2 linked regions of the Homo sapiens genome follow. The protein of the gene in region 1 purifies or fractionates together with the protein of each later gene. This does not show direct contact. Each region holds a gene or a part of one and is shown on either strand. Other genes may lie near its edges.

Evidence for each region. Proteins that work in one complex are often made in the same cells at the same time.
Region 2: the proteins of RNF126 (region 1) and LRWD1 purify together in Homo sapiens (affinity purification with mass spectrometry; 3 studies listed by BioGRID and IntAct, with this or other methods). This does not show direct contact.

The regions. Positions count from the first base shown.
Region 1 is NC_000019.10:652,908-657,083, forward strand, and holds part of RNF126 (E3 ubiquitin-protein ligase RNF126), read right to left. Parts: intron 1-4,176. UniProt on the Homo sapiens protein: E3 ubiquitin-protein ligase that mediates ubiquitination oF target proteins. Depending on the associated E2 ligase, mediates 'Lys-27'-, 'Lys-29'-, 'Lys-48'- and/or 'Lys-63'-linked polyubiquitination of substrates.
Region 2 is NC_000007.14:102,467,984-102,471,163, reverse strand, and holds part of LRWD1 (leucine-rich repeat and WD repeat-containing protein 1), read right to left. Parts: intron 3,103-3,180; coding exon 2,977-3,102; intron 2,902-2,976; coding exon 2,787-2,901; intron 2,611-2,786; coding exon 2,510-2,610; intron 2,310-2,509; coding exon 2,102-2,309; intron 1,591-2,101; coding exon 1,518-1,590; intron 1,423-1,517; coding exon 1,282-1,422; intron 1-1,281. UniProt on the Homo sapiens protein: Required for G1/S transition. Recruits and stabilizes the origin recognition complex (ORC) onto chromatin during G1 to establish pre-replication complex (preRC) and to heterochromatic sites in post-replicated cells.

The DNA of each region.
Region 1 (4,176 bases):
GGTCACGGTGACGCCGGCATCACCTGCAAACCCCCCCAAGTGTGAGGACAGAGGGGCTCCGGACCCAGCGGTCTCTGGCTGGCCAGGCACACGCAGGCCAGGGTGGCTCCCAACCCGTGGGTCCTGGAGGGCGGCCGAGGGGACCTGGCCTCTGCCAGCCACCCGCTGACCCTTTGGTGGCTCCCGGCGATCTGAGCCCCTCCGACCTGGCCCCACCGTGACGGGCGTCACCAGCGTCATCAGCGCCTTGGCTGAGCCCCTCCGACCTGCCCCACCGTGACGGGCGTCACCAGTGCCTGGGCACCTCCTCACACAGGTGGCACCACTCGGAGGGGTGCCCCAATACCCCACAGTGGCATTTCCAGGACGCTCTGGCAGCCCCGCACACAGCCCGTTCCCCTGGCTCGGGGGAGGCCACGTCCACGCTGGCCACACCCCTGCAAGACCCCATCCCCAGGTCCCCCTAGAGCCAAGGACAACACAAGGCCAACATGGTGATGTCCCAGAGGAGACGTGAGGACCCTGCCCAGGGACAGCCGTGGGTGAGTCCCAAAACCACGTTCACAGTTCCCCAGCACCAGCCTCAAGCCACAGCTGTGCCGAGCAGGACGGATGCCATCCCCTGTGGATCTCACACTGCAACGGGATCCCCAGGGCTGAAGGGCCTGCTGGAGACACTGGCTCACAGGGCGGACTCCTCATGGATGGCTGGGCCCCTGGTGATGGCGGAGCGTGCCGAGCATTCGTGGGGCCTGGGCTGAAACGTGCATGGTGCCTCCCGGCCTCACCAGGGGCTGGGCAGATGCCGACACACACTTCCCGCACAGCCTGCAGAACTGGAAACTGGAAGCTAAATCAACTGCTCTCTATGAACGACCCAGTCTCAAGTGCTCCATCGCAGCAACGTGAAAATGGCCTCACACGGCACGTGTCATCACGCCAGGGGCTCACATGGGGGTCCCAAGACCACCCCCAGGTAACACAGACAAAAACAGGAGACAAGGCTCCCACCGTGCATGGGGGAGTGCTGTGAGGGGAGCCAAGGTCGACCCCAGGCTCTGGGGATGCAGGTTGCACCGGGGCTGTTCAGTCTTCGCAGGGGCAGGGGCTGGGACCTCTCCAGCAAGCAAGATCCCGGCCTCACCCACTGACTCTGGGGAGAAGCGGGGGTCTGGCGTGCAGTGCCCAAGGGGAGGGCCGACAGCTGGGCCCCCGCCCACACCACGCCGTGCCTGCCTCACCTGCTCCTGCCACTGAAGCACAGGCTGGGTGGGGAGGGACTAAGGCCAGGGTGAGCAAACGATGCCAGATGCACATGAACCCACCGTGAGGGGAGAGTGAAGAGGCACCATCTACAATATAGAAAAAGTGCGGCCCGGCTCCTGGTGAGGCCGGGAGGCACCACATGCGTTTCAGCCCACGCCCCACGAATTCTCGGCACGCTCCGCCATCACCGGGGGCGCGGTGGCTCAGGCCTGTAATCCTGGCACTTCGGGAGGCCGAGGCGGGCGGATCATCTGAGATCAGGAGTTGGAGACCAGCCTGGCCAACATGGTGAAACTCTGTCTCTACTAAAAATACAAAAATTAGCCGGGTGTGGTGGCGGGCGCCTGTAATCCCAGCTACTTGGGAGGCTGAGGCAGGAGAATTGCTTGAGCCCGGGAGGCGGAGGTTGCAGTGAGCTGAGATTGTGCCATTGCACTGCAGCCTGGGCGAGGGAGCAAGACTCCGTCTCAAAAAAAAAAAAAAAAAAAAAAAAAAAAAAAAAAAAAGTGCTGGCCGGGCGCGGTGTCTCATACCTGTAATCCTGGCACTTTGGGAGGCCGAGGCAGGCGAATCACCTGAGGCCAGGAGTTCGAGACCAGCCTGGACAACATGGAGAAACCCCGTCTCTACTAAAAATACAAATGTTAGCCAGGCGTGGTGGCACGTACCTGTAATCCCAGCTACTCAGGAGGCTGAGACAGGAGAATCGCTTGAACCTAGGAGGCGGAGGCTGCAACGAGCCGAGATCATGACATTGTAACTCCAGCCTGGGCGACAGAGTGAGACTCCGTATCGGGAAAAAAAAAAGTGCTTACAACTCAAAAGAAAGAAAGAAAGAAAGAAAAAAAAGCCCAGGCCAGGTGCAGCAGCTCACACCTGTGATCCCAGTACTTTGGGAAGCCAAGGTGGGCAGACCATTTGAGGTCAGGAGCTTGAGACCAGCCTAGCCAACATGGCCAAACCCCATTTCTACAAAAAACAAATTAGCTGGGTATGCTGGGGTGGGTCTGTAGCTCCAGCTACTAAGGAGGGGGAGGAGACAGGCAGGAGCGGGAGGCAGGAGGCAGAATGGCTTGAGTCCAGGAGATCGAGACCGCAGTGAGCTGTGGTCCCACCACTGCGCTAGCCTGGGTGACAGAACCAGACCCTGCCAAAAAAAAAAAGAAAAAGAGAAACAGACAACGCAACTAAAAACGGGCAAAGTCGGGAGGCTGAGGCAGGAGAACGGCTTGAACCTGGGAGGCAGAGCTTGCAGTGAGCCGAGATCGCGCCACTGCACTCTAGCCCGGGCGACAGAGTGACACTCCATCTCAAAAAAAAAGAAAAGTGGGGGGGGAAAGGACGTGTACAGGACATGCCTCCAAAAACACGCTGGGTAAACGCAGCCGGCCAGCCCCAGCGAGATGCCACTTCCCAGGGCCAGCCAGGACGAGATGCAAGACCCCGTCAGGCCTGCTGGGAGCCCAGAAGTCCCCCAGATGGAACTACCCCATGACCCACGAGCTAGAACTTTCACTCCAGGCGCAGACCCCAGAGAAACGAAGACACCTGCCCACCAAATGTTCACATGGCCAGAACTGGCAGGTGAGAGTTCACGGCAGCACAGTTCATCATCGTCGTCGGCAGATGCAAACAGCTCCAGTGTCCACCCGCACCTCAGAGCACGACTCAACCATGGAAAGGGGCAAGGCCCAGACCAGGCCACGGCGGGGGGGAGGGGGGATTGCATCTTGAGGACATCACGTCCAGTGAGAGATGCCAGACACAGAAGACCACGCAGCGTGTGATCCCACGTCTATGAAATGTCCAGGACAGGCCGAGCCACAGAGACAGAGAGGGGATGTGTGAGCACCAGGGCCTGGGGGAGGGGACGGGGAGTGACGGCTGGCAGGGCTGAGGTGGGTTCTTTTTGCAGCTGTGAGAATGCTGTGGAATTAGACTGTGGTGGTGGTTGCACAACTTTATGAATATACTACAAACGTTTCACCAGGTGAATTATATGGTGTGTGAAAATACTGAGATAAAGCTATTAAAATAAATGGGCCAGGCGCCTGTGGTCCCAGCTGCTAGGGAGGCTGAGGTGCCAGGATCGCTTGAACCTGGGAGGTGGAGGCTGCAGTGAGCCAAGATTGCAGCAACAGAGTGAGGCAGCATCTCAAAAACAAAAACAAAAAAAAGAAAGAAACAAAGAAAAAAAGGGCTGGGCACAGTGGCTCACACCTGTAATCCTAGCACTTTGGGAGGCCAAAGTGGGCAGATCACTTGAGGTTAGGAGTTCGAGACCAGCCAACATAGGGAAATACCGTCTCTACTAAAAATACAAAAATTAGCTGGGCACGGTGGTGGGTGCCTGTAATCCCAGCTACTCAGGAGCTGAGGCACGAGAATCGCTTAAACCCGGCAGGCAGAGGTTGCAGTGAGCCGAGATCATACCACTGCACTCCAGCCTGGGCCACAGAGTGAGACCGTGTCAGAAAAAGAAAAAGAAAAAGGGAAAGGGGAAGGGGAAGCAGCCAACGACCACCACTGTGGCCCTGAGCTTAGTGTGGGAGCAGTGTGGCTCTGCCACAGTGGCCGTGACAACTCTCCCCAGGCGTCGGTTCTTGGGGTGTGTTTGGGGTGTCGGGATTGGGACGCCCCACGTAAACACGCTGAGACTTCACAGTCAAATCTGAACCCCTGGTTTCTGCCGGTGTCGGGTCTATCGGGGCTCCTCTGGGCTCAGGGGTTGCCGCCGTCCGCCCGCCAGCTGACCGGGAGCCCAGGGCCGCTCCATCGCCTGGGTGGGTCTCTGGGAATGGAGGGGTAGCTCAGGGCTCAGGCTCTCCCTGCATGGTGACTCCCCAGGCTAGCACCACCCAGTGGACCTGGAACAGCTGCACTGGCCCCCACTGAGGGCAGGACGTAAGT
Region 2 (3,180 bases), on another chromosome or scaffold:
GGTCAGGAGTTCGAGACCAGCCTGGCCAACATGGTGAAACCCCATCTCTATTAAAATACAAAAATAAGCCAGGCGTGTTGGCGTGCACCTGTAATTCCAGCTACTTGGGAGGCTGAGGCAGAAGAATTGCTTGAACCCGGTGGGGGGGTGGAAATTGCAGTGAGCCGAGATCGTGTCATTGCACTCCAGCCTGGGCAACAAGAGTGAAACTCCATCTCAAAGAAAAGAAAATTAGCCGGGCATGGTGGCGTGCGCCTGTAATCCCAGCTACTCGGGAGGCTGAGGCAGGAGGATCACTTGGAACCTGGCGGCAGAGGTTGCAGTGAGCCGAGATCGAGCCACTGTACTCCAGCCTGGGTGACAAGAGGGAGACTCTATCTCAAATAAAAAGTAAATAAATAGAAATGCAAAGCTTACCGTGGCTGACGAAGCCCGGCGTGCCCCGCCCAGGCACCCTTGCCACCTTGTTCTGGGCTGGGTCCACCCAGCTGTGGCCACATGGTGGAGCAGGCCAGCTGGCTCCCCTGCCACTGACCTTTGCACGTACCATTTCCTCCATGCAAGCACCTCCCCACCCTCCGCCCGCTGACTCCCTCACCAGGCTCCCAGGGAGGAAAGCGTGAGCCCCAGAATATCCATCTGCCGCTGGTCACCTCAGCAGAGTCCCCTGAGGCCCCCACGCTAGTGTCCCTCTGCCCGTTACTCTTTTTCCGTCTCCTTCGTAGCTGGCATCACACTGTGGGATTTTGATTGGCCACCTTTGCTGAGCATCTGTCTTCCCCAGTAGGCTGGGGGCCCCAAGAGGACAGGGACCCCTTGCCAAGCCCTGTCTCAGAGGCCTTCCAGGTGGGACAGATGAGCCAGAAAGCCTCAACGTGGCACTTCCAAAGCCTGCCTGCCCAGACACCACCTCACCTGCCCTCCGCTAGCCATCGGCCCCTCTTTACAGATGAGGACATTATGCCAGCACAGAGGACCATCACACTGCTGATGAGTGGCAGGAGTGGGCTGGATCACGTGGGCACAGCATGGTGCTGAAGCCCCAGGTGAAGGGGAGGTCATCATGGCCCAGTCCCACAGCTGAACCCAGGGTGAGAGCAGGGTCAGAGTCCTTTCCTCCAGAGCCTGGCAGAAAGGTGGGACAAGCCAGCTCTGCGAAGAGGCCTCTAAAAACAACCCTTATGGTTACCCGGGTGTGCCCAGGCTGCTGTGAGCCCATCTGGGCCAACAGCCACCCTCTGCAGAGGCCTGGCTTCCAAGGCGCCCCCTGCCCAGCCTCACCTCCTCTTTTGGGGCTGGTCCAGCCGCACGTCCCAGCAGCAGCAGCCGCCCTCGCAGCCGGCCAGCAGGCGGGCGTCCGGGCAGGAGGCGACAGGGCAGAGGCGCAGGGGGATAGAGGTGGTGTCCAGTGTGAGCAGCTGGCTGCCAGTGGGCAAGGGGGAACAGAGCATCAGACCCAGACCGAGGTGTCCCTGCCCCAGCAGCTGGCCACTCCCCAGCCTCACCCGAAGCATCACCTGGCCTGGAATTCGTAGTCCTGGTTGGGCACCCCGATGTCCCAGAGGATGATCCGCTTGTCATAGGAGGCCGCTGAAGAGGGGGTGGGGTAGGGGAGAAGTGGCCCTGAGATGACCCTGCTCCCTCCTGCTGGCTGCATCCCAGGCTGAGCCCACGGTCCCAAGGCCAGCCCCTCCGAGGCGGGGAGGGCGGGCCGAGGCTAGGAGACAGGAACACTCCTGGGCCCCCAATCCCTGTTTCCTCCATCTAACCTGATGCGGTGGCTCCAGCGGCCACTTCCTGTGGCTCATCCATCCCCCTTGACAGGGGCGCCACACCCGGGGGCAGGGGCATCCCCCCAGGTCACTGACAGGGGACAGAGTGGCCCAGGCTGTTGGAAAACTCCGAGGCCACAGAGCAGGCTGTGGATAAAGCCAGGGTTGAAGCGACATGGCTTCCTGCCAAAGCTAGAGTCGGAGCGGTGCAGACTGGGGCCCGGCAGGCGCCCGAGCTCACAGCCATCCCAGGGAGGGGAGCGTGGAGGCTACTGGGGCAGCAGGACAGGGGTGCTTGGGGGTCCCAGGGGTGAAGGGGAGGGGCTTACTGAAGAGATGGGTCTCGTGGGCGGGGCTGAAGCACAGGGTGGCGATGGCCTTCTTGTGGGCTCGGATGACCCCGCAGCAGAAGCCGGCACGCACGTGCAGCAGCCGGACCAGGCCCCGTAGGCCTGCAGCCGCCAGCACACTCCAGCGCTTCTTGTGGCCAGCCTGTGTGACCACCATCAGAGCGGTCCAGGCCACAGAAAAGAACTCCTGGGCGGGGGTTAGAGTAAACAGTCACTGGGGCAGAGCTATTGGTGTGAACACGCGGGTAGCCCGGGCCTGGGGGAGGGAGCCCCAGCATGAAAGAAAAAGGCCATGGGGCAGGGGGCCGAGCCTGCATCCATCCCCATGCTGCTGTTCAGGAGTCAGTCGGGCACCCTTGCCCAGCAGGGACAGGGCCTTGCACTCACCTCGCCGGGTGCCTTGTACTTGTGGAGCACGATGCCCGTCTGGCAATCAATTACGCACACAGCCTCCCCGCCGCACGTGGCCACGGTCTGGGATGTGGCCCCTGAGTGCCCGGTTTTGAGAGGTCGGATGAGCAGAGACATTTCCCATCTAGGTCCTCCCTGCAGCCTCCTCCTCCCAGCCTTGATGGCGCCTTTTAAGCTCTGTCTCCTGATCCCCCACCCATCCAGGCGGCCCTATTTCCAGCGGCCCTTGCCCCGCCTGCCCGCCACCATGTACCCTCCTCCCAGGCCGGCTCGAAGGCACAGGCCCACAGCTGGGTCTCGAGGTCCTGGGGGCTGTTGTTCTTGCTGTGGCACTGCAGGAAGTGCAGGGGCTCCAGCTTCACAGCAGGCTGTGGGGGGAGAGAAGGGTCACAGCTGCCCAGCCCCGACTCATCTGCCACCTGCTCCTTGCCACCTCAGCTCACCTGGCTGCCATCGGAGCCTGCCACAGGGCTGCCCTCCACCTGGGCCGACGGGGAGGCACACGCCCGCTTGCTGGGAGAGAGGCTGAGTGGGACGTCGTCTGGCCGTTTCAAGGCCGCCAGTCTGGCCTGTGGAGGGGGCCTTGTGACCATGGGCCTGTCTGCCTGGGGCTTCCTTCCTCCCCATCACAGGCTGGACCCCACCTC